4 separate regions of the Homo sapiens genome follow, and all the other regions are linked to region 4. The links come from fine-mapping of genetic effects on gene expression. A gene starts in region 4. Each other region holds a variant in brackets. All regions are shown on one strand. Distances are between the middles of the regions. Region 1 overlaps MPZL1 (myelin protein zero like 1). Region 2 overlaps MPZL1 (myelin protein zero like 1). Region 3 overlaps MPZL1 (myelin protein zero like 1). Region 4 holds the start of MPZL1 (myelin protein zero like 1).

Evidence for each region. PIP is the estimated chance that this variant, and not a neighbour inherited with it, causes the effect. A credible set is the group of variants that fine-mapping cannot tell apart.
Region 1: its variant is the best candidate, but not a certain one, in a credible set for the expression of MPZL1 in monocytes after LPS (Fairfax 2014, PIP 0.57).
Region 2: its variant is the best candidate, but not a certain one, in a credible set for the expression of MPZL1 in whole blood (TOPMed, PIP 0.83).
Region 3: its variant is the best candidate, but not a certain one, in a credible set for the expression of MPZL1 in whole blood (TOPMed, PIP 0.69).

The regions. Positions count from the first base shown.
Region 1 is chr1:167,775,765-167,781,657 of GRCh38, forward strand. MPZL1 (myelin protein zero like 1) reads left to right here. Exons shown (of 6, transcript NM_003953.6): 5 at 300-402. Among named protein-coding and RNA genes, the nearest start is that of MPZL1, 57 kb to the left of the region's middle. The variant A/AGGAT (reference allele first, on the strand shown) is at 2,759.
Region 2 is chr1:167,762,705-167,768,597 of GRCh38, forward strand. It overlaps MPZL1 (myelin protein zero like 1), which reads left to right. Exons shown (of 6, transcript NM_003953.6): 2 at 2,879-3,045. Among named protein-coding and RNA genes, the nearest start is that of MPZL1, 44 kb to the left of the region's middle. The variant A/C (reference allele first, on the strand shown) is at 3,117.
Region 3 is chr1:167,782,809-167,788,701 of GRCh38, forward strand. MPZL1 (myelin protein zero like 1) reads left to right here. Exons shown (of 6, transcript NM_003953.6): 6 at 5,012-5,893. The coding sequence ends at 5,113. Among named protein-coding and RNA genes, the nearest start is that of MPZL1, 64 kb to the left of the region's middle. The variant A/C (reference allele first, on the strand shown) is at 2,553.
Region 4 is chr1:167,719,091-167,724,983 of GRCh38, forward strand. MPZL1 (myelin protein zero like 1) reads left to right here and starts at 2,892. Exons shown (of 6, transcript NM_003953.6): 1 at 2,892-3,152. The coding sequence starts at 3,062. RefSeq lists enhancers at 494-993, 3,220-3,720 and silencers at 2,532-2,901, 3,292-3,361, 3,392-3,531.

The DNA.
Region 1 (5,893 bases), 57 kb after region 4:
ATGTGTATTGTAACTAGAATTCCAATATGATTTTTGTAAACTGGGTTGAAGAGGTTGTACCATATTTGTTTCTGTGCCTCCCCCAGTGATGAGTTCATTGACTTAGAAGAATGAGTGAGTGTCAGGTATAGAAAATAGTTTAAAAACATGTGATCATTTTGACACCCATTGTTATGTTGTCTTTTGTTTTTATATATCTGTTGCTTCATCTTGCCGTCAGTTGCATTTCTATATTTTTGTTTCTATTTATTTATTATTATTATTTTTTACATTTGTTCTTCAAATTGCCAATTCATCAGCTGCAGTACATCAGAGAGTTTGTCACCAGTTAAGCAGGCTCCTCGGAAGTCCCCCTCCGACACTGAGGGTCTTGTAAAGAGTCTGCCTTCTGGATCTCACCAGGTAATGGCTGATTGCGATTCTGCCCACTGCACTGTTCCCTACAGCTTGGTGCTCTGTCACTTCCTTGGGTGTGGAAAAGAATACTGAGCTATGAGAGACAGAGACAGAGACAGACAGACAGAGACAAAGAGAGAGTGGGAGTGAGGAATTAAAGGGCTGGCCTAGGAAGACCACAGGAAAATATGTGGTGAAGAATCTGCTTGAGTAAAGATTTCCATGAAACCACCAATAACATAAATTGTTTACTAACCATGTAGCTTCCTTGCCTCAAGCAGAATTAGGAAATGGCTTTGTCAGTAAAAGATTCTTTAATTGCCCAAGGAAATGAATCTAATGAAGGAGATTCTTTCTGTATTGAGGTACTCTAAGATAAGAAATTAGCAAGGAAAAGTTGGTATTCTTAGTATTGATAATAAAACCAAAATTATTTTCTGTGGATTCTTTAGAAAAAATGGAAAGTAAGCATTTATCTGAATAATTAATAGGCTTGATGAACAAGGAATGGTTTTGGTTTCTACTTGTAGAAAGTACAGAAGAGAAACAGGTTTTATTTGGAAGTTAGCATATAATCTAGCTTTGTGTGTTTTGGCTGTAGTATTTTAATTATAACTGTGGCTTGGCAAAAATTCCATAGCTTAGTTCAGTTTGATTTTTCTGGGGTAGAAAGCATGCTAAAGAATTTGGCCAGTTATAGCTTTGTCCTAAAAAGGTGTTAGCTGGTGGGAATGGATTTAAGAGGAAATAAAGAGAGTAACAGTGTTTTGTGGGAAAAGTACCCATAGTCTTATTCCATAGTTGTTATATGTGGTGAGGAAACTAAGGCATTGTGATGTTAAATTACTAAAAGCACACACCCAGTTAGTGACAGAACTGGGGCTAGAACCCAGGTGTCTAGATAGCATGTTCTCTACCACAGCATCAGGCTCATTACTTGTTCCTGTTCTATCTGTCTGTCTCTCTCTCACATTACATAATATATGTCAGATACCTCAGTCTACTAATTTGGGTTGTGAACAGGAATATGGTTGTAAATGAAGACATGAAAGTTACATACACATAGGCATAGCATCTAAAAAAGCATTGGAACATTTTTATTCCGCCCTTGAAGCACTATGGAAGTTGCTTTTTTGCTGAAAACAAACCAGAAAAAAGAAAAAGAAACTGTGGTTTTCAAGACAGTGGAACACAAATTATGCAGCACTGTCATCCCCAAAAGAAAGGAAACAGACAATGTGAGCCGTGTTATTGCCCCAGTGTACTGCCTTGAAGCAGTTTCCACACTGCAGTGTAGGTGGGGAAAATGGAAACTGGGCCCAGCTGTCTCACTCAATTGAGAAGGCGGAAATCAGAATTTGGGGAGGTCAAGGAGGCTAAGATTTATGAGGCTGAGTACCAAAGAAGGAACCATAGAGAGAGCGTGCTAGGATGAGCACGAGCACTTCAGAGATTTGGAGCGGGGTCCCCTTGAGTCTTTGTCTGATTACAGAGTTGTATACACATAGGAGAACACTCTCTGAAACCAGGGGAAGAACTACCTGAAATGCAGTAGGTTGCACAATGCCTGGTGCTCACACAGGTGAGGGACTAGTTTGTGTTCCTAAGAGCCAGAGTAGAGAGACTTATAATACACAGGGTATTGGTTGGGGTTCTCAAAATGGTCATACCTAAATGGGTTAAATTAGTACCAGAATAAAGGATGCTATGGACCCACCATAACAAAGCTTAAAAGGAAGCCTTTAAAGAATCAAACTAATCCAAAAGTAATTTAGTTGCATTTTACAACAAAATCCAACACGCTTTATGCTACAACAAAATTCATCACCCAACAATGTACAATTTACAATGTCTGGCACCAATCAAAAACTACCAGGCATGGCCTGGTGCGGTGGCTCACGCCTGTAATCCCAGCACTTAGGGAGGCCAAGGCGGGTGGATCACGAGGTCAGGAGTTCGAGACCAACTTGACCAACATGGTGAAACCCTATCTCTACTAAAAATACAAAAATTAGCCAGGTGTGGTGGTGCACACCTGTAATCCCAGCTACTCAGGAGGCTGAGGCAGGAGAATCACTTGAACCTGGGAGGCAGAGGTTGCAGTAAGCCGAGATCACACCACTGGCACTCCAGCCTGGGTGACAGAGTGAGACTCCATCTCAAAAAAAAAAAAACAACTATCAGGCATAAAAAGAAACCAAAAAATAAAACACATAAGCCAGATATAGTGGTGTGTACCTGTAGTCCCAGCTACTTGAAAGCCTAAGTGGGAGGATTGCTTGAGCCCAAGAGTGTAAGACCAGCCTGGGCAATATAGTGAGACCCTATCTCAAATAAATAGATGGGTGGAAAGAAGGAAGGA[A/AGGAT]GGATGGATGGATGGATGGATGGATGGATGGATGGATGGATGGATAGATTTAAAAAAATAATAATTTAATAATTAATTACAATAAAAAATCAGGAGAAATCAATCAGAAACAAATTCAGAATGGATGGAAATGATGGGATTCATAAACAAAGACCTTAAAATGAGTATTATCAATCTTATTAGTAAACTTAAAGATGTAAAGGAAAGCTTGAACCCAATGAGGAAAGAAATAGATATCTAAAACAGACCAAAATGGAACTTCTGGAAATAAAAAAAAATTGGATGGTGTTAACAACAGATTAGATACTGCAAAAAAAAAAGGTCAATCAACTTGAAGACATAGCAATAGAAACTATCCAAAATGAAGCTCAAAGAGAAAGACAGATGGCGGGGTGAAAGTGAACAGAGCCTAACACGGTGAAAACCCATCTCTACTAAAAATACAAAAAATTAGTTGGGCATGGTGGCACGTGCCTGTAGTCCCAGTTACTCAGGAGGCTGAGGCAAGAAAATCACTTGAACCTGGGAGGCAGAGGTTGCAGTGAGCTGAGATCATGCCACTGTACTCCAGCCTGGGCAACAGAGCGAGACTCTGTCTCAAAAAAGAAAAAAAGAAAAAAAAGAAAGTGAACAGAGCTTCAGTGAGCCACCGGACAATATCAAGCAATCTAATTAGAATCCGAGAAGAAAAAGGGAGAGAAAAAAATATGTAAAGAAATAGTGAAATTTTTAGTAAATTTAATGAAAAACATAAACACACAGAAAGCAATAGCGAAAATTGCTGGGCGCAGTGACTCAACGCCTGTAATCCTAGCACTTTGGGAGGCTGAGGTGGGTGGATCACCTGAGGTCAGGAGTTCGAAACCAGCCTGGCCAACGTGGCAAAACCCCATCTCTCCTAAAAATACAAAGATTAGTTGGGCATGGTGGCAGGCGCCTGTAATCCCAGCTACTTGGGAGGCCAAGACAGGAGAATTGCTTAAACCACAGAAGCGGACATTGCAGTGAGCCAAGATCGCGCCACTGCACTCCAGCCTGGGCAACAGAGTGAGACTCCATCTCAAAAAAAAAAAAATTGACTCTTTACAGCAAAAATAATGACAGCATTTTATGAGGCTATAACATGTGGAAGTAAAATGTATGACAACAGTAGTACAAAGGATGGGGTGGAAGGATGGAAGAATACTGTTGTAAGGTCCTTATATTATCCATGAAATTATAATTTGAAGGTAGACTGTGGTAAGTTAAAGATATATGCTGCAAATTCTAGAGCAAACACTGAAAAAAATAAAAGAGATAGATACAGCTAACAAGCTCTATCTCCGAATGGCAATACTGATAAGAACAAAATTCTGACATATGCTACAACATGGAAAATGGTAAATGCGGATGGTAATAATATCAACGTTGGCATCAGAACAAGAAATAGAACCAGAGATAGAGGGACTTTTTATGATGATAAAGCGATCTACTTACAAAGAAGACATAATCCTAAATGTTTATACTTGTAATAGTAGAGCTTGAAAATAAGTAAAACTGAGAGAATTGGAAGGAAAAATTGACGTATTTACAATCATAGTTGGAGGTTTCAACAAGAAACTTTAATGTAATCATTTCAAAATACTCAGTTAATCCAAAAGTGAGCAGGAAAGGAGGGGAAAATGAGCAAAGGGTAGATGGGGCAAATAGAACACAAATAATGAAGTGGTAGATTTAAACTCAACCAGACTGATGATTGTATTACTATAAATGGGCTGAGTGTGCCAATAAAAGGTGGAGATGGACAAATTGGATAGAAAAGCAAGAACCAATCATATGCTGTCTGCAATAAACCACTTTAAATAAAAAGATCCAGGTAGGTTAAAAATATTAATACAAGGATGAAATTGAAAGCAGAGTCTTGAAGAGATATTTGTACATCCATGTTCATAGCAGTATTATTCACAAGAGCCAAAATACAGAAGCAACCCAAGAGTCCATCAGTATACAAGTGGATAAATAGAATGTGGTATATATATACACAATGGAATATTATTCTGTCTTTAAAAGGAAAGAAATTCTGACACATGCTACAACATGGATGAATCTTGAAGATATGCCAAGTGAAATAAGCCAGCCACAGAAAGACATACTATGTGATTCTACTAATATCCCATACCCTACAGTGGTCCAGTTCATAGAGACAGAAAGTAGAGTGGTAGTTGTTGGGGAAGGAAGAATAGGGAGTTGTTTAATTGGTACAGTTTCAGTTTTTGCAGGATGAAAATATCGTAGAGATTGGTTGCACAAGGATGTAAATGCACTTAACACTACTAAGCTGTACACTTTAAAATGGTAAAGATGCTAATTTTTATGTTATATATATTTTACCACATTTTTTAAACAGTAAAAGGATGGAAATGATATGCTACATTAACACTAATCAAGAGAAATCTGGGTGGTAATAATATCAGAATAGGCTTCAGAACAAGAAATAGAACCAGGGATAAAGACAGACTTTTTATGATGACAAAGTGATCTACTCATGAAGAAGACATAATCCTAAATATTTATACTTCTAATAATAGAGCTTGAAAGTAAGTGAAGTAAAACTAAGAGAATTGAAAGGAGAAATTGACATATTCACAATCATAGTTGGAGGTTTCAACACTCCTTTCTCAGCAGTTGGTAGAACAGGTTTACAGAAAATCAAAAAAGATGCGGAAGACTTAACAGTGAAACCAGTTTGAGCTAATAGACATTTATAAAACACTCCTTCCATCAAGCGCAGAATTCTTACTCTTTTTAAGTACACATGAAAATTAACCAAATATAGACCATATTCTGGTTCATAAAACAATTCTCATTAAATTTAAAAGGGTTGGAATCATATAGAGTACGTTCTCTGGCCACAATGGAATTAAACAGAAATCAACAGAAAGATACCTGGAAAGTCTCAAATATTTCAAAATTGAACAACCCATGAGTAAAACAAGAAGTCACAAGAAAAATTAGAAAATATTTTGAACTGAGTGAAAATAACATATCAAAATTTGTGAGATATAGCTAAAGAAGTGCTTTGAAGATTTGTAGCATTAACTGTTTATATTAGAAAAAAATAAAGCTCTAAAATTGATGATCTAGGCTTCTGTCTGA
Region 2 (5,893 bases), 44 kb after region 4:
TTGATTGAACAGGTATGACCATAGAAATGAGTGGCTGGGGTAGGCCTGATCTTACCCAGATTATTGGAGAAGATAAACAGACTAGGGTTTTAGAAGGTTTATCTTACAACTGATGAAATCTCCAAAAATGATGACAAGAGTAGTATTAGAGAAAAGTGTAGATAGCCAGGGATGGGAGGAAGTTAATTTCTCAGTGTGTGGCATCATTTTCTTTTTCTTGAGCTAGCTGATGGGCTAGCTTTGGATTTCATAATCCTGGCTAAGAGCTACACGTTCAGATTAGCCAAAGAGTGTTGTGTGTTTTTTAAAAAGCCACCTGTTTATTACCTAACTTTGGTATAATGAAATCTGTGTCTTAAATAGATGCCTAAAAGCCATTTGGGAATTTGGTTAGTCTTTTTGCTCAAAATTCTGTGACTGTAAACTTGGACACTTGGTCTAATTCCATCTTTAAATAATGTCTCGGGATGACAAGTCTTGCAGCTAGGCCTCGAGGAAGGGATCTGGTTTAAGAAAATCCTTGAAGAAGGCTGGGTGCGGTGGCTCACGCCTGTAATCCCAGCACTTTGGGGGGGCCGGGGCTGGTGAATCACCTGAGGTCAGGAGTTCGAGACCAGCCTGGGCAACATGGTGAAACCCCGTCTCTACTAAAAATACAAAAATTAGCTGGGCGTCGTGGTGGGTGTCTGTAATCCCAGCTACTCGGGAGGCTGAGGCAGGAGAATTGCTTGAACCCAGGAGGCGGAGGTTGCAACACTGCACTCCAGCCTGAGTGACAAGATTGAGACTCGGTCTCAAAAAAAAAAAAAAGAAAGAAAGAAAAGAAAATCCTTGAGAAACTTTATTTATAGACTTTTAGAGACTGTGGCTTTCCAGTACTCATCACCATGGAGAAAACTAGTCAAAATCACACAGAGTGAATAAGGGTTGCAAGCCAGTGCTGCTTCCTGGAATAAGCTGGTCCACTAGTCTAGTCTTGTGCTTTGTCCTTCATTTTGAACTCAAGTGCCCTGGGGCTGCTTTTCTGCGTACCCACAATAGCAAGGAACTCTTTTGTTTGCATCTCCTCTGAAAGAAATGCTTGTTTTGAGGTTTGGACCGCAAATAATAATCTATTGTTCCCTGTAATAATAATCCACCCTCTTTCGCAGAAAAAAAAATCTGCTTGATGCAGTATGGCTATCAGTTTATTTAAAAGAATAGCCAAAAGTGCCCATTATGTCCTGAGAATAAACATTTGCAAGATGGTTGGGAGGAATGGGGGAGTACTCTTGTTCTCCTTGGCTGAGAGTCAGTTAAGTCTTCAAGGAGAAAAAATTCTGAAAATGACCATCAGTCCTGGCTGACAATACTCTTCCTTATTCTGCCCGTCTGTTACATTCTAAGAATTATTGCAACACTGCAGATATTTATTCCAAACGATTTCTTTAAAAAATATGGAAGATGGGTATTTTTAAGTTACCAATTTTGGGCCAAATAAGTTTTTTTTTTCTGACTTTCATTTTGTCTGTGAAAGCATTTCTTTTATAGCAGTATGTTCAAATTAGCAATCTTTAAGAATTTGGCAAATACTTTTAACAGCAATCCTTAACAATTCCTGCAGTTGCCTACTATTGCAGATCTTGAAAAAAGAGCCATTTTTATATTCTAAGTGGTAGACACATTTCAATTACTATTTCCTGGGCTTAGGCTAACTGACAAAACTTGATGGGTGAAATGAAAATGTGATATACGGTGTAATCAGCTGTTTACTTACCTAGCACAGTGAAATCTTATGGTAGGTATGATTGCACTAACAAAACCAAAACATGCATTTTTCTTCCTTAAGTTCTTTATAAGAAAAGGATCAGTTAAATAATAAATGTGGCTTTAAAATGAAGTTATATCTTAGGATAGTTTTAATTGCATTACATATGGATGATGAGAAAAGTTCAGTGTGATAACAATTGCGTAACAGATAAGCATGAGAACTACTTAAAGAAATAAAAATATGCCCATCACCTCATTAAAAATAGACCATCAGGGAAGCCACCAAGAAGTCCTTCAGTAGGTGAATGAATAAACTGTGGTACATCCATACAATTTGTATATTATTCAGCAATAAAAAGAAATGAGATATTATGCCACAAAAAGACACGGAAGAAAGTTAAGTGCATATTACTAAGTGAAAGAAGGCAACCTTAAAAGGCTACATGCTGTATAATTTTAACTAGATAACATTCTAGAAAAGGCAAACCTATAGAGACAGTATAAGGTCAGTGTTTGCCAGGGGTGTGGGGGGAAGGACGGCAGGAATAAATTGGTGTAGCACAGGGGATGCTTAGGGAGTGAAACTATTCTGTATGATACTGTAATGGTGGAGACGTCACTATTCACCTTTGTCAAAATCCATAAGATCTACAACACTAACACAAATCCTAATGTAAACTATGGACTGTGGTTAACAATGATGTAACCATATTGGCTCATCAATTAAAACAAACGTATAACACTAATGCCAGATGTTAATAATAGGAGAAACAGGTTGGCCATGGGAGAGTGAGGGAATATGAGAATTCTACCTTCTATTCAATGTTTCTGTAAACCTGAAACTGCTCTTTAAAAAGTCTATTAGTTTAAAAAAAAAATTCAATATAACCAGACTAATAAAAATATCTTAACTAAAAAGCAATACAAACCTAAACTGTCAGCAATTATTCTGTTTATAGTGCTATTCTGATTGAACTTAGCTGTAGAATATTCTGCCAGAAATATGTAATGGCAGTGAATTACTGTATATATCTAGTAACTTTGCTGTATCTTTTCTTGTCTGGCAAAAATGCACAGTGGTATTCATGTTAAGTCCTACTTTCAACTACCCTTATTCCTTTCTCTTCAGTGACAGCTGGAGTATCAGCCTTGGAAGTATATACGCCAAAAGAAATCTTCGTGGCAAATGGTACACAAGGGAAGCTGACCTGCAAGTTCAAGTCTACTAGTACGACTGGCGGGTTGACCTCAGTCTCCTGGAGCTTCCAGCCAGAGGGGGCCGACACTACTGTGTCGGTAAGAATGCTTGACTTCTCTTGGCTAGTCCTGCCTCACAGGTTTCTTTACTGCTGTATAATTGGTGATCC[A/C]TTTTTCTGATGGTTCATTTCCAAAATGAGTGTATTTTTTATCTGTTATAGACTTCAAGGCCCTTCTTTTGCTTCAGGATAAAATAAGTTCAGCATCTCTTAAATGCGTCTGGTTTCCTTGTCTTTGATCAGTTCCTCTCCACCATCAAATCCCATTCTGAAATTGATCTTAATTGACCACACTGACTCTAATCAGGATTTATCCTGCATCTTTTCATCTTTTATTGCCCCATATTTATTGATATTTGTTTTATGTATTATCAAATTTTATATATATATGTATGCATCTTCTGATTTGATTATCTTTTTTTAATTTAGCGTATAGTCCATCTGATTTAGCAATATTGATTTGGGAGCTTACTATGTAGTGGGTTATGTAGGGCCTTCAAAAATGTCTAAAACAGAATCCTTGCTCTCACCTAGAGATGATTAGGAGGAAGGCTGATATATAGATGACTTTGGAGTAAGATAAAGGATGTAACAGAAATACAGCACCAGAGCATTGAAAAAAGGTTATTTAGTAACTAGTGGAGTGCTGGTTATTAAACATGAACTGACTATCTTGGTTCTGGTCTGTAAAATGGAGACGATAAAACCTCCCACACAAGGGTGTTAGGAGGATAAAGTAAGATTATTCAAGATAAGTGCTCAGGAGAGTGTCTAGCTCTTGAGTTACTAAAATACACCATTTGTTGTTACTGTTGCTCTCCCAGCATGTGGAATGCCCTTCATATATTGGCACATATTTTAGTACTGTTGCATGTTTCAGGTTGTCAGTGTTTAGCAAGGACAGTCTGTCATCTATCTTTAAGAATGCCCAATTCTTCTTCTGAATGGTGAGTTACATTGTTGATCACCACCTAGATGTTGGGCCCATCATATGCCTATGCCATTTAATCTTCACAGCTCTATGAGGAAGACAGGGTGGGGAGGATGGGAGACACTGACTCAAGAGTTATTCACCTGTGGCCATACCACACAGGTTAGAATTGTTTAAACTTCAATACGGTATGATTTCCCTTATGTATTATTTCTCTCTCAGGTAGAAAAATCTGCTAATAATATTTACGGCCTCATAGGTTTTAGGGATTACCTAAGGCAGTGCTTCTCAGTATTTTTTAAAATTTATTTTTAAAAGGAGCCTTTTCACATTTTTCTTAATCTCTGCCCCCTTCCATGAAATTTTAATATTGTAGATATCCTCTGCAACTGTTTTACATATAAAAGAGAAAGATTTTCTCAAAGCTTCCCACCCAAGAGCCAGTGTTTGCTCCCTTGGGGGAGAATCTCCCCTATGGAGAATGCATAGTCTAGAGGTCTTTATAAGAGAGGCCTTCCCTTACAGTAGCCATAAGGGTGAGCACAGGAATCCATACAGATACCATGGAAAGACATAAAGAGGCATTCTCTGCTTCACGTAAATATGGCATCAGCATAGAACATACACTAATGTTCCCATAGAGGCAAGATTAAACACATAAGTTTACTCAAGAGAGTCCAAAGAACTATTTAAACATTTAAAGATTTCCCACTGAAGTCTTCTGCAAGAGTGGGTGTGAGAGCCACCCAGAGGTAATAACTTTCTTTTAAAGAGCGGTTCCATTTATGCTGGAAACAGTCTTGTCGTGTAGGTCCATGAAGGTTTACATAACTCAAAACTTAATATTAAGAACATGCTGTAATTCTGATTAATATTTTTAGCTAATCAATTTATACTTACACACGAGTCTGATTGCAGTTAATCCCAGCATGTTCAGTTATTGACATAGGATCCTTTAATTCCAAAATGTCGGGACACATTTAATAAGATGAGTGGGTTGCTTTTTTGTTTTTATAGGTTTTACAGGAAAAGTATATTCAAACCCAGTATATTCAAAAGCCATACTGTGGATGGCTTTTTTGGCCCATGGCCTTGGGATCCACATGTCTGAAACTGAACTCATTTTTTCTCCCTTCTGTTTCCCTTTTCTGCTTTTTTTTTTTTTTTTTTTTTTTAGGTTAATTGTGTTCATCTGCAGATGAGTTTTGTAATCATTTTGTTTTGTTTTGTTTTGTTTTGTTTTGTTTTGTTTTGTGTTTTCTGTCCTTTCCTTCCCTGTCCCTTACCACTTCCCTTCTGCCCCCAAGAAATAAGAACCTTTGCTGGTTCTTCCTACTTTGTTTCTGGTGTCTAGCTTTTTGTCAGCCTTCCTGTGTCTCTGCTGTCTATTGAGCAATGTTAACTGTGTGCCTGGTCTTGTGCAGTAGCCCCTTGTTATTCTTCTGCTTCTGTTTTTCTCATCTTTCAATCCAACCCTCATATGCCAGCAGGTGCATAGTCTTAGAACAGCTCTTTCACCTTGCCACTGCAGGTTATCAGGAACCTAGATTCCCATTGTGGACAACATTTGTCTAGAATTAAAAGCTCATTACAATTTGGCCCAGCCTACCACTTTAGCCTCACTTCTGTTCTCTTATGGCATCACTTCCAGTTTAGTAAAAATGCTTTGTGCTTTGTTTTCCTACTTCTGAACACTTGTCATTTAAGCTGTACCCCATTTTTACCCTCTGTCTCCTCCATAATGCCTCTTTTTTTTTTTTTAACCTTTTAGCCCTTAAAACTCACTACCCTTATCTGGGCCATTCCTATAATACAGATCCCTTAATATGACAGTTTTCCTCTTCTTCCTGAATATGGGTGTTTTAAGAGGACTTGCCTGTCTTACATCTTTAGTATACCTCATAGCTTTAGCACCATGGCTTGTACTTTAAAAATATTGATTGATAATGATTCTAGT
Region 3 (5,893 bases), 64 kb after region 4:
TACTGCTGACTTTAAAGATGAAGAACTCATAGCCAAGAAATACAGGCAGCTTCCAGAAGCTGGAAAAAGCAAGGAGACAGATTCTCTCCTAGAACCTGTGGAAGGCACGCAGTCCTATTGACACCTTGATCTTAGCACAGTGAAACACATTTCAGACTTCTGACCTGTAAAACTGTGAGATAATTAATATGTTTTTAACACCTTTAAAATTGTCTTTATTCTCCTCCCTCAAACTTGATTGCGAATCTGGTGGGGTAGGATTCCCAGTTGGAAATCATTTTCCTTCAGCATTTTGAGTCATTGCTGATTGTTCTGGCTTCCAGCATTGTGGCTTAGAAGCTGATGCCATTCTGATTCACTCTTAGGGCAGAGGAAGGTAGGGTCATCTACCTGAGCAAAGGGAGAGTAAAGACCAGAACCAAACTGGGGCTCTTCCAGCCAAGTGGAGTGGGAGGCTGGGTTGGGAAGGTGTTAGATAGGCACTACCTAGAGTTTAGAGTGTTAAGGCACTGTGGAAAAAAATAAGAAAATTTTTTTTCTTTGTGAAGCTTAGTTTTGAATGAGATTGGTATAAAGTAATTTTTGTATATGTATTTGAGGAGTAGTTGGTTTTCTAGATCCTTTTCTGGATATCGTTGATGCTCTGTATGCAAAAGGTAGGTTTTTGGGTTATGTTGTTAAACAGTGATTGAATGGAATATTTATGTATTTGTCAACTATAGTGCATAGCATAGACAGGGTAATGTTTCAAGAAGTAGTTATGTGCGTTTTTCCTTTAGTCCTCACAACAGTCCTCCAGGGTAAGTTCTTCTGTTGTCTCTATTTTACACATGAAGAAACTGAGGCTTAGTTAGGCAAGTCACTTGCTCAAGGTCAGTAGTTAGTGGCTGAGCCAGATCTGTCTGGTTCTAAGGCACATGTATATTTTATCCTGTCCAATTTTTTTCACCTCTGCTTTGATAATCAGTATTTGTCTCATTTATCTCAAAGAAAGTCATAATACATAGCTGTGTTTCATATTTATATTTTACTTAAAAAACAGTGGAATAAATACTAAAAAAAAAGGTGTTCTGTCAGTAGTCAATGAGCACATGGTAAAAATAGATGTTCTTTCTTAGTGATTCGTGCTAGGCTTTTGGGGATGACTCCTCTAACACCTGAAGGACTAGAATCAAATTAAATAGGGCTACAGGCTACAGAGACTGTGAAAGGTGTACTACAGGACACAACATAATGACTCCTGAGCAGTTAATTTGTAGTTAGAAGCAGGTCTCTTTGCTTTTCTAGAATCCTTTCTTCCTGGACCTTCTCCCCCAACCTTCACCAGTTATGGTTTTTTTATTGGAATAAATAATTAATTTTGGTACAAGTAAACTTCAGAGGTAATTTTATCTCTAGTTGTAACTAAAATAATAGGCCTATATTAAGCAATGTGTTTCTTGAAACATTTTCAATAGCTAAGGCCTATTCATGCAGAAAGTAGCTGAAAACATACTCAGACCAATTTTTCACTTTATTGTTGTAATTCTTTGTGTAAAAGCAAAGATAAATAAATAAATGAAATGGAGGGTGGGGAGGGTGAGTACCAAGAGATAGAGTAAAACAGCTAGGTTAATGTAGGTTTTGTTGTTGTTTTCCTTCTTTATTATACCCAAAAGTGAATGTCTTAACAATGGTAGGTTCATTTCAAAGTTGATCGTGGTTCTGTGGATCCTCTTGAAGTCCTGAGCAGCCTCATTTGCCCTCAAAATCGAGGTGCTGAGGCATGTTCCATAGAGACTCAGGGCTCCTTCCACCTCTAAATAGCACTCAGAATCAAACTTCATAGAGGTGTTCTAGATTGAGCTAGATCTGTCAGCAGACCCCAATCTCAACCTACATCTGCAGTTTCTCTGCATCCTTTCTTTCATCCATCCCTTCATCCAGCACCTGTGTTCTGCCAAGTTCTAGGAAGTTAACAAAGTCCCTGACTTAAGACCTTATTATATTCTAAGGGGGAAGAGGAATGAGGATAACATCAGGCAGTGGTAAACAGTTTGAAGAATACCAAGTCCATCAGCAGGAAGGGATTTCTTCAGTGTTTTCCCATTTACTTTCATGAGATAGTTGTATTCTTTTGACATGAAAGACAGTACTGTCTCACATGAAAGACCTCATTGATATTTTAACATTTACAGACTAAAAGATAATTCTGTGTTCTTTTTCCTCTTTACTTTCTCTGTTCTCATTCTTTTCTACTCACATAATATATCAATTATCTACTGCTACGTAACAAACCCCCCAAAATATAGTGGCTTAAAACACGCACTATTTATTTGGCTCCCCATTCTGTGGATTGGTCGAGCAGATTCTGGTCTGGATGAGCTCAGCTGATCTCTGCTGGCTCACTTGTGCATCTGCAGTTGGCTAGAAGGTTGACTGGTAGCTGGACAGTCTACAGTGGTCTCACTTACAGTCTAACCATTGGCAGGCTGTTGGCCAGGCAGACAGAGGACAGCTGGGCCATGCATCTCTCATCAGCCATCAGGCTGACTTTGGCTTCTTCACATGGT[A/C]GTGGTGGCTGTGTGGGTCCCAAGATCAGTGAGAGTGGAAGTGGCAAGGTCTGTTGAGGTCTGGGTGTGGAAACTGCACAGCATCACTGCTGCCTCATTCTGTTAGTCAGAGCTGATCACAAGATCAGCCCAGATTCAAGGGGTAGAGAAACAGATTTCTACTCTTGATTGGAAGGACCTACAGCATTATGTTGCAAAGAGTAAGATGCAGAGAAGGAAAGAGTTTGTAGCCATTTGTGCAGTCAGTCACACATTGTAAACCCCTTCTCCCATGAACATACCCTAAAACTCTTAGTGAGTTTTTAGGAATTATGATATGGGGTTTTATTATCTAAGAATTTATATAATTTAATGTTGGGAGTTCCGTCCTATTCTTGGAAATAGCTGTTACCAGGGAACAGTTAGTTTAATTCTGTTCCTAGTAGAAAACAGTCTTTTTTTTGTTTTTTTGAGACGGAGTCTCGCTTTGTCACCCGGGCTGAAGTGCAGTGGCGCTATCTTGGCTCACTGTAAGCTCCGCCTCCTGGGTTCACACCATTCTCCTGCCTCAGCCTCCTGAGTAGCTGGGACTCCAGGCGCCCACCACCATGCCCGGCGAATTTTTTTGTATTTTTAGTAGAGACGGGGTTTCACCGTGTTAGCAAGGATGGTCTCGATCTCCTGACCTCATGATCCGCCCGCCTCGGCCTCCCAAAGTGCTGGGATTACAGGCGTGAGCCACCACACCCGGCCGAAAACAGTCTTTTTAACTTCCTTTTGTTTTTTGGTGGGGTTAGCATTTAACTTGTAGCTTTCTGAGATGAATATAGAGGGTCTGTATGATTATTAACCATGTGATCTGTTAATATTTCCTATGACAGCCATTATAGACTAAAGATAAACACACAGAGTTTGACTATTTAATTTACTTGACCAGTTACCTCAGTGCATTTTAAAGTATGTTTGTGTAACAAGACGTTCATAATAATAACTAACATGTATTAAGTACTGTCTGTGAGACACTGCCTAAGTTATAGGTATCATCTTATTTAATTTTCATAACAACAAAAAACAAAAATGTAGATATTATTAGTAGTACCATTTTAGAGATGAAGAAACTTGTGCTTAGAAATTTACAAATGTGCCCAGGGCCACGTGACCAGTGCTCTTCTCTAAGGTTCAACAAAGACGATATCATAATTCAGACTGCAGATCTGCCAACATTCAAATGGCTCTAGTCCTCGAGTGTTATTTTCTAACTCCGCTTTTAGATGCACCATTGTATAGCCCTTACAACTGGGCCTGTCCCTTCTGTAGATGTGGGAGTAGCTGAACTCCACAGAACCCCAGGTTACACACTAAGGACACAGGTTGTTAGGGCTCCTGGATGAGGGTAAGTGTGTTTATTTTAAACCACGTGCTTTTGGCTATTGAGCTTATGATTTCAAAGGTGAAAGCTTAAGCACGTTATTAGACTTCTCAAGGAGAGTTCCCCTAGATTGGGAGAAAAGTTGACATTGGGTAATATTAAATCTTTCTTTTAAAACCAGGGCTATTTTGTTGTTGTTTACAATTTTAAGAGTCTAGACTGAAAGAGTCATGAAATGCAGCCACCTATCTGACCTCTTCCCCCAACAGTTAGGGAATTCGCTCTGCCCCCAGGCCACCCAACCTTCCCTTGCTCTCCTGAATGGGACCCTGACAATTCCCTGGAATTGTAACCTCTTCCTTACTGCTGAGGCTGAGAAGAGGATCTTTTCTACTTTACTCCATTTAGGGTTTTTCTTTATATCTGTGTAGATTGTGGCTTTTTGTTTTTTCTTTTTAATTTTATTTTAAAACAGGAAGAACAGTTATCTGATATTAAAAATCAAGGAAGCAATATTTGTATTGGTCACAATACGCTCAGACTAAAAGAATTATGCTGTAAGTAGTTGTATTGAAGAATATTTGAAGTGCTTTTAAACTATTTGTTTAAAACTATACCTATTTGTATAACGTGACCAGATCAAATTGATTGTATCTTTGGGTGGCACCAAATATGTTGGTTTCTTGCATGGATTGATTATTCTGAAGCTCATGATTTCTGTGGGTCTCAGGTGCGTGGAAGTTCCCATCTTAGTCCTTAAGACTCTTACCCCAATTGTAAGAGCTGAGGAATTCTGTGATAGCTATTAAGATAAGAGATATTCCTAAGAAGGAATATATTATTACAGAAATTTTCAAACATCAAAAAGGTTTGAAAGAATAATGTAACAAAGCCCCATGTACTTGCTTTAACTATTGTCAACGTATGTCCAATCTTGTTTCAAAGTCAGTCCTGGATGTATCATCCATAAGAAGTCTTCCTGAAGACATTCAAGAGGGAAGTCTTTGCTTTGGAACCCTGATGTGATCACGTTAATCATTGCTTCTATGCCTGTAGCTGAAGGAACCGCCAGCGTTTTCAGTCCTCTAATCCTTCTGCTTCCCTTTTCCAGGGCCCAGTCATATATGCACAGTTAGACCACTCCGGCGGACATCACAGTGACAAGATTAACAAGTCAGAGTCTGTGGTGTATGCGGATATCCGAAAGAATTAAGAGAATACCTAGAACATATCCTCAGCAAGAAACAAAACCAAACTGGACTCTCGTGCAGAAAATGTAGCCCATTACCACATGTAGCCTTGGAGACCCAGGCAAGGACAAGTACACGTGTACTCACAGAGGGAGAGAAAGATGTGTACAAAGGATATGTATAAATATTCTATTTAGTCATCCTGATATGAGGAGCCAGTGTTGCATGATGAAAAGATGGTATGATTCTACATATGTACCCATTGTCTTGCTGTTTTTGTACTTTCTTTTCAGGTCATTTACAATTGGGAGATTTCAGAAACATTCCTTTCACCATCATTTAGAAATGGTTTGCCTTAATGGAGACAATAGCAGATCCTGTAGTATTTCCAGTAGACATGGCCTTTTAATCTAAGGGCTTAAGACTGATTAGTCTTAGCATTTACTGTAGTTGGAGGATGGAGATGCTATGATGGAAGCATACCCAGGGTGGCCTTTAGCACAGTATCAGTACCATTTATTTGTCTGCCGCTTTTAAAAAATACCCATTGGCTATGCCACTTGAAAACAATTTGAGAAGTTTTTTTGAAGTTTTTCTCACTAAAATATGGGGCAATTGTTAGCCTTACATGTTGTGTAGACTTACTTTAAGTTTGCACCCTTGAAATGTGTCATATCAATTTCTGGATTCATAATAGCAAGATTAGCAAAGGATAAATGCCGAAGGTCACTTCATTCTGGACACAGTTGGATCAATACTGATTAAGTAGAAAATCCAAGCTTTGCTTGAGAACTTTTGTAACG
Region 4 (5,893 bases):
GGATTCCTCTTTGAATCTATCTGATTTGTTATCTGCGAGGAGTCAAATTCTCAGGGTTCCTGGGACACCACCCACATTCCAATTTTCCTCTGGCAACAGATCTTGAAGACAAAGACAGACAGGCTAGAAATTGGGACTCTTTTTCTCTTGATTATACTTCTCATCCAATTTATACCCAGTCCTGTAATTCTTTTCGTGAAATGTCTCTCAAATCCTGTCTTCTCATCCCCACTATCAATACCTTATTTCCTGCTCTCTTCATTCTTGCCCTGCTGCAGTGGTTACCTTTTTAAAACACAGATCCGAACTTCTTACACCCCTTTCACCACTCTCCACTGCCTCCAGAAAAAACACAACTCAAGGCTCTTCAAAATATGACCGCAGCCTCCTTTCCTGGCATTCTCTCTTCCCCTCTTTCCCTCACTCCCCTCAAGTTGCAAACCACAAAGGATTCACCTAATGTTTCTCACACTTGGTAGGTGATTTCTTTTCTCTGAATGTGCTTTTCCTGTTTTCTCCGTTCTCTGAGTTTGCTTTTCCTGTTTTCTCTCTGGTGAATTATTCATCTTTTAAAGTTCACCTTAAATGTTTTATCCTTGGTGAATCTTTCTAGATGCTTCTTGGGCCAGTGGATTTTAGGAGAGCGAGGTATATGTGGCTGAGGTACATCACAATCAGCAGAGAAGCTTTAAACACTGCTGAGAGTCACTGTCCCTGCTGGCCTTGGGTTTCTTCTTTATTCACTCTTCCTTTTTTTGAGACGGAGTCTCGCCCTGTCGCCCAGGCTGGAGTGCAATGGCGCGTGATCTCGTCTCACTGCAACCTCTGCCTCCCAGGTTCTGTAGCAGGATGAGCCGCAGACAAAACTCCTCAGACACGGAGTTAAAGAAGGAAGGGGTTTATTCGGCCGGAAGTATCGGCAAGCCTCCTGTCTCAAGAGCCTAGCTCCCCGAGTGAGCAATTCCTGTCCCTTTTAAGGGCTCACAACTCTAAGGGGGTCCGCGTGAGAGGGTCATGATCAATTGAGCAAGCAGAGGGTACTGTGAATGGGGGCTGCATGCACCGGTAATCAGAACGAAACAGAACAGGACAGGGATTTTTACAATGCCTTTCCATATAATGTCTGGAATCCATAGATAACATAACCGGTTAGGTCAGGGGTCGATCTTTAACTACCGGGCTTAGGTCAGGCAGGCCCAGGCCTGGTTTCGGGTCTGGTTCTTAGGCGCCGGGTTACCTGCCTTTAATTTCGCTTCTCTTTCCTTTTCTGAGTATAAAACTATATGAGAGGTTCTGTCTCTCTTCTCTCAGTTCAAGCGATTCTCCTGCCTCAGCCACCCGAGTAGCTGGGTACAGTCACGCGCCACCCATGCCCGGCTAATTTTTTTGTATCTTTTAGTAGAGATGGGGTTTCACTACGCTGGCCAGGCTGGTCTCAAACTCCTGACCTCGTGATCTGCCCGCCTCGGCCTCCCGAAGTGCTGGGATTACAAGTGTGAGCCACCGCACCCGGCCCTCATTTTTACAAATGTAATTGAGTACTTGTTTGTGTACACTAGTAGACGATGTGCTTCTTGAGAGTAAAGCCCAGGTGTTCTACATCCATGGTTCAATTAATGCATTGGTATCTTTTCCAACCTATGGCATTTGAGATACAACTTCAAAAGGATCTGCTGACAGAAATAGGGCAAAGTGGTTCTGGTATTTTTTTTTTTTAAGTTTTTTTCTCACTAATGTTCTTATGATTTCGCTGTACTGCAATGTTAGCTGAAACAGCACAGATATCAGGAATGGCATTGTTAAGACTGACCTTAGACAAAAACCCTGAAGTGAGAGGTTACATTTTGGGTTCTCACCATACTCTTCCCCCGCTCTTGTCCTAATTGTCTAAAGCTTGCTTCCCTTCCTCATCGTATCAGCCTCCCACCTGAATCTTCCCTTTTCCTCCTTCACACTCATCTTTCTTGTGCCCCTGTCCCCCATTTTTCCCTTTTGTAAGCCATTTTCATAAGGATCCTTCCAAATATTTCCCCTATTGATTGGACAACCCGTAGGTGGCAGACTGTTCTGGGCCAAGGCAACCAAGTTGAGCAGGGCCAGCAATCAGTGTCGGGAACTTCTGCAGGGCACTTCAGAATCAGTGTTGGGAACTTCTGCTTTCTATTTTTCACGGACACAGACAGGAACACAGATATGCGAAAGCAAAACAATCAAAAAGCATTTTCATTTGTTTTTCAGGTAGTAGGAAAGAGTTCCAGATTCCCATCCTTCTGAAGCCAGGAGGGAGGTTCCTAAGAGGAGGTTAGGGCAAGATGGAGACTTCTTTTTAAACTAGTAGATTTCGCAAATTGCAACACATACATTATCTAGTCCACGCAAAGGACAGGCCTTGGGGACACGGCACGGGGAACGTGTTCCACCTGGACGACTGAATCAGAAGTCTCTCCCCCATCAATTGAACGCCTCATTATTTTTCTTTCTGTCTTTTCTTTCTTTTTAAGGTAAATGAATTGCTTCTTTTTCGTTAGGTGAGGCCGGCAGAGAACAAGAAGAGCTGAAACGGAGGCGAGGTTAGTACCCAGCAAAGACCTGTGGCGAGGAGAGACAATGAAGAGGACCACGGGACTGGACCCTGAGAAAGGCAGAGGAGACGCTGGCTGGTGGGGCCCGCAGGCGGACAGCCACGCAGGCAGGCGGAAGGCTCGGCTCGGCCTGGGACCGCTGCAGACCCGGCCTCCGCGCGGGGCCGAGGCGCCTGGGTGGGACCGAGGAGGCGGGGCCTTCCCGGCGGACGGATGATGGACAGCCTGACTCTCCAATCGCGTCCTTAAAAGGGTGCGGGCAGGCCAATGAGCGGACAGCGAGGGCCGGAGTGGGGCTGAGGCTTCGGTGCAGAGCTGGAGAGCCGCGGCTGGGACCGGAGTGGGGAGCGCGGCGTGGAGGTGCCACCCGGCGCGGGTGGCGGAGAGATCAGAAGCCTCTTCCCCAAGCCGAGCCAACCTCAGCGGGGACCCGGGCTCAGGGACGCGGCGGCGGCGGCGGCGACTGCAGTGGCTGGACGATGGCAGCGTCCGCCGGAGCCGGGGCGGTGATTGCAGCCCCAGACAGCCGGCGCTGGCTGTGGTCGGTGCTGGCGGCGGCGCTTGGGCTCTGTAAGTGATGCCAGGACCAGGGCTGGGGCCGGGGAGTGGGGCCCCCGGGCCCGACACACGCCCATCGCGGCGGTCGCAGGCCAGGCGCGCGCACTGAGAGCCGAGGTGGGGAGGGGGCGCGGCCTGCGCTCTCTGGGGCCGAGGGGACCCAGCCCATGGGGAACGCGGGCCTCCGCGACTGGCCGGGAAGGCGCAGAGCCTCTTTCTTCTCTTTCCTGGATCCTGGAGTGCGGAGGAGGAGGGGAGAGTGCTTTACCTTGCTCCTTCCCGGGGGGCGGTCCAGGGGAGCGGACCCGGCGGGCGGCTGCGGTGAGCCCTCGCGGCGCACCCTGCCCTCTCCTCGTGGTGACTCTGGATCGTCTAGGCCCTCCCGGATTCTGACTCAGGAACTAGGGTTCTGGCGTTCTTCACCTTTGGGAGGTGGCGGAAAGTTGCAGGTTTTTCATTTGTAGGGCCTTTGTTGATTTGTTTCCTGTTAAGCCAGGGTTTTGTTGTAAGTTCCCTTTCCCATGCTCTCATTCAGTTTTAAGTCTCCGTAATAAAAGAGTCTCATTTCCGTGGTCTGCAAAACGCCAATAAAAAAATATTGTTACTTCTAGGTTAGAATGCAAAGAGCTTGGAATACCAGTGAGATGGCCTGGCTTAAAAGAATTTGGTCAAATCCATCATAATTCCAGACGTAGCCACCATAATTTGACAAGACATAGAGCATTAAAAAGCATAATTTTCCTAAAGGAAAAAAAAAGCTCCTTTTTCTTACCAAATATTGTGACTCAAGCTTAAGGTAAACCTCGGGCTCAATTTATGGGAATTGGATGACTTGTTTTATGGACATCTGAAGTGGTATCTGCCACAGGACTTTTCTGTGTTGTTGTTCAAAGCAAAGTACTTGTTGCTGTCTCCGAATTTAGTTAAATAATAGTTATAAAGAGGGCCAGCTGCTAAGAAACCACGTAGATTTTTTTCATTCCCTTTGTTTTCAAAATGTCAGTTATGATTTAGCATCACAGTATCTGAATACCAGAGTTTACTCAGTAATTTCTTTCTTCATGGAAAAGTTCTTAATATAATCCTTGGATCAGGGAAACTAGGTGAAGTTCTGTTGGATCACCAACTGTTCCACTTAAACAGTGATTCCAGGGGCTGTAAAGCATAAATGTAAAAGTCTCCCTACCCTCCAGGGGTTGACAGATGATGACACACTTTGTGTAAGACACAATCCATTCTGTATTTTGTCTTAGAAAAAAAGGTTAAAAGTGTGTTTGTTGGTGGTGGTATTTGTGTTTAATCAAACAAGTAGAAAATAGCCTAAAATTAAGGTTTATCAGAAATATGCTTCAGACAGAATTGTTATGCATGAGAGGTCAGACATTGCTATGGAGGACAAAGCAGTTAGGGTGATCTTAATTAAAATCAGGGTATTAAACGTAGAAGGAGTGCAAAACTACATAGTAGTGAAAAGATCACTAGAGTAATAGCCCCATACAACTTGGACGTAACTCTTCAGTAATGAAGATGAATGTTGATATGTAAAAATCAGCAGCTGATGTTATTGGTTCAACTTAGAAAATTATTGAATCTAAAATTCTTGCCAAATCACCTCTTTTCTGGTCATGGATACTGCACATAAGAGTTTATCTTTTACAGGATAGCTTCTAAAGTTTTATCAAGACAGTTACTCAGCAAACATTCACTGAGCACCTTTTAAGTGCTTAACACTTAAAAGGTGGGAGGTTAGGTCTCACTGTGTTGCCCAGGCTGCTCTGGAACTGAAACTCCTGGGCTCCAGTGATTCCTCTGCCTTTTCCTCGCAAGCAGCTGGGGCTACAGGTGTGTGCCACTGTGTAGGGTCAGAAGCACATTGGTAAAGATGTACTGTGGGAGCTTGAAGGAGGGTCATTATCTCAGACTGTAGTTCAGGCTACTGGAGGAAGGGAGTTTAAACTGGGTAGGCATGGGGGAGGGGCAGAAGTACATACAGAGTTATGAATGAACCTGTTGGTAGTTCAGTATAGTGGGAGGTTGGAGTGTATATAAGGGGAATGGTGGGAGTTGAGGCAGGAGAGCCTGCCAAGGGCACCAGCTTACAAAGGGCCTTGTCTGCCACACTTAATCCAATGAGGATTTCTCTGTCTATTGAGATGTGAAGGATGGGTTAGAGTGGGGTGAGGCTGAAGCCAGAGAAGGCAGAGGACTATTGTAATAATCCCGGGGAGGATGATGAAGATCTGAATTCAAGCATTGGGCTATGAAGAGAGGACACATGTTGATGCGCCACTTAGAAAGTACGTTTGATAGAGCTTGGAAACATTGATGCAGGCTTGAAAGAGGAGGTGGATAAAATGATCATAGGTTTTGGGCTTGGGAAGCTGGGCATATTTTTGGCCTTTTCACAGATGGGGAAATAGGAGTCTTGGGGGAAGAAGATGATGGAGATACTTTTGAATATGTTGAGTTTGAGATGCGGGTAAGACATCCAAATGGAGATGGGCAGAAAACAATTGGATAGACAGTTCTGGAGGTGAGGAGAAAGTTCTGGTTGGAAATGGAGATTTAGAGAGTTATGTGGCTAATAGTTAAAGCTTGGATTGTTTGGATGAGGGCATCCAGGGAAAATGCACTGAAGAACATAGCAGAGAGCCAAAGACGGAGTTTTGGGGTATATGAAACCTGACAAAGAGTCTCTGTGAGTAAGAGAAAAACCAGGTGAGTTTGGTATTTCAGCATTGTCAGATGAAGAG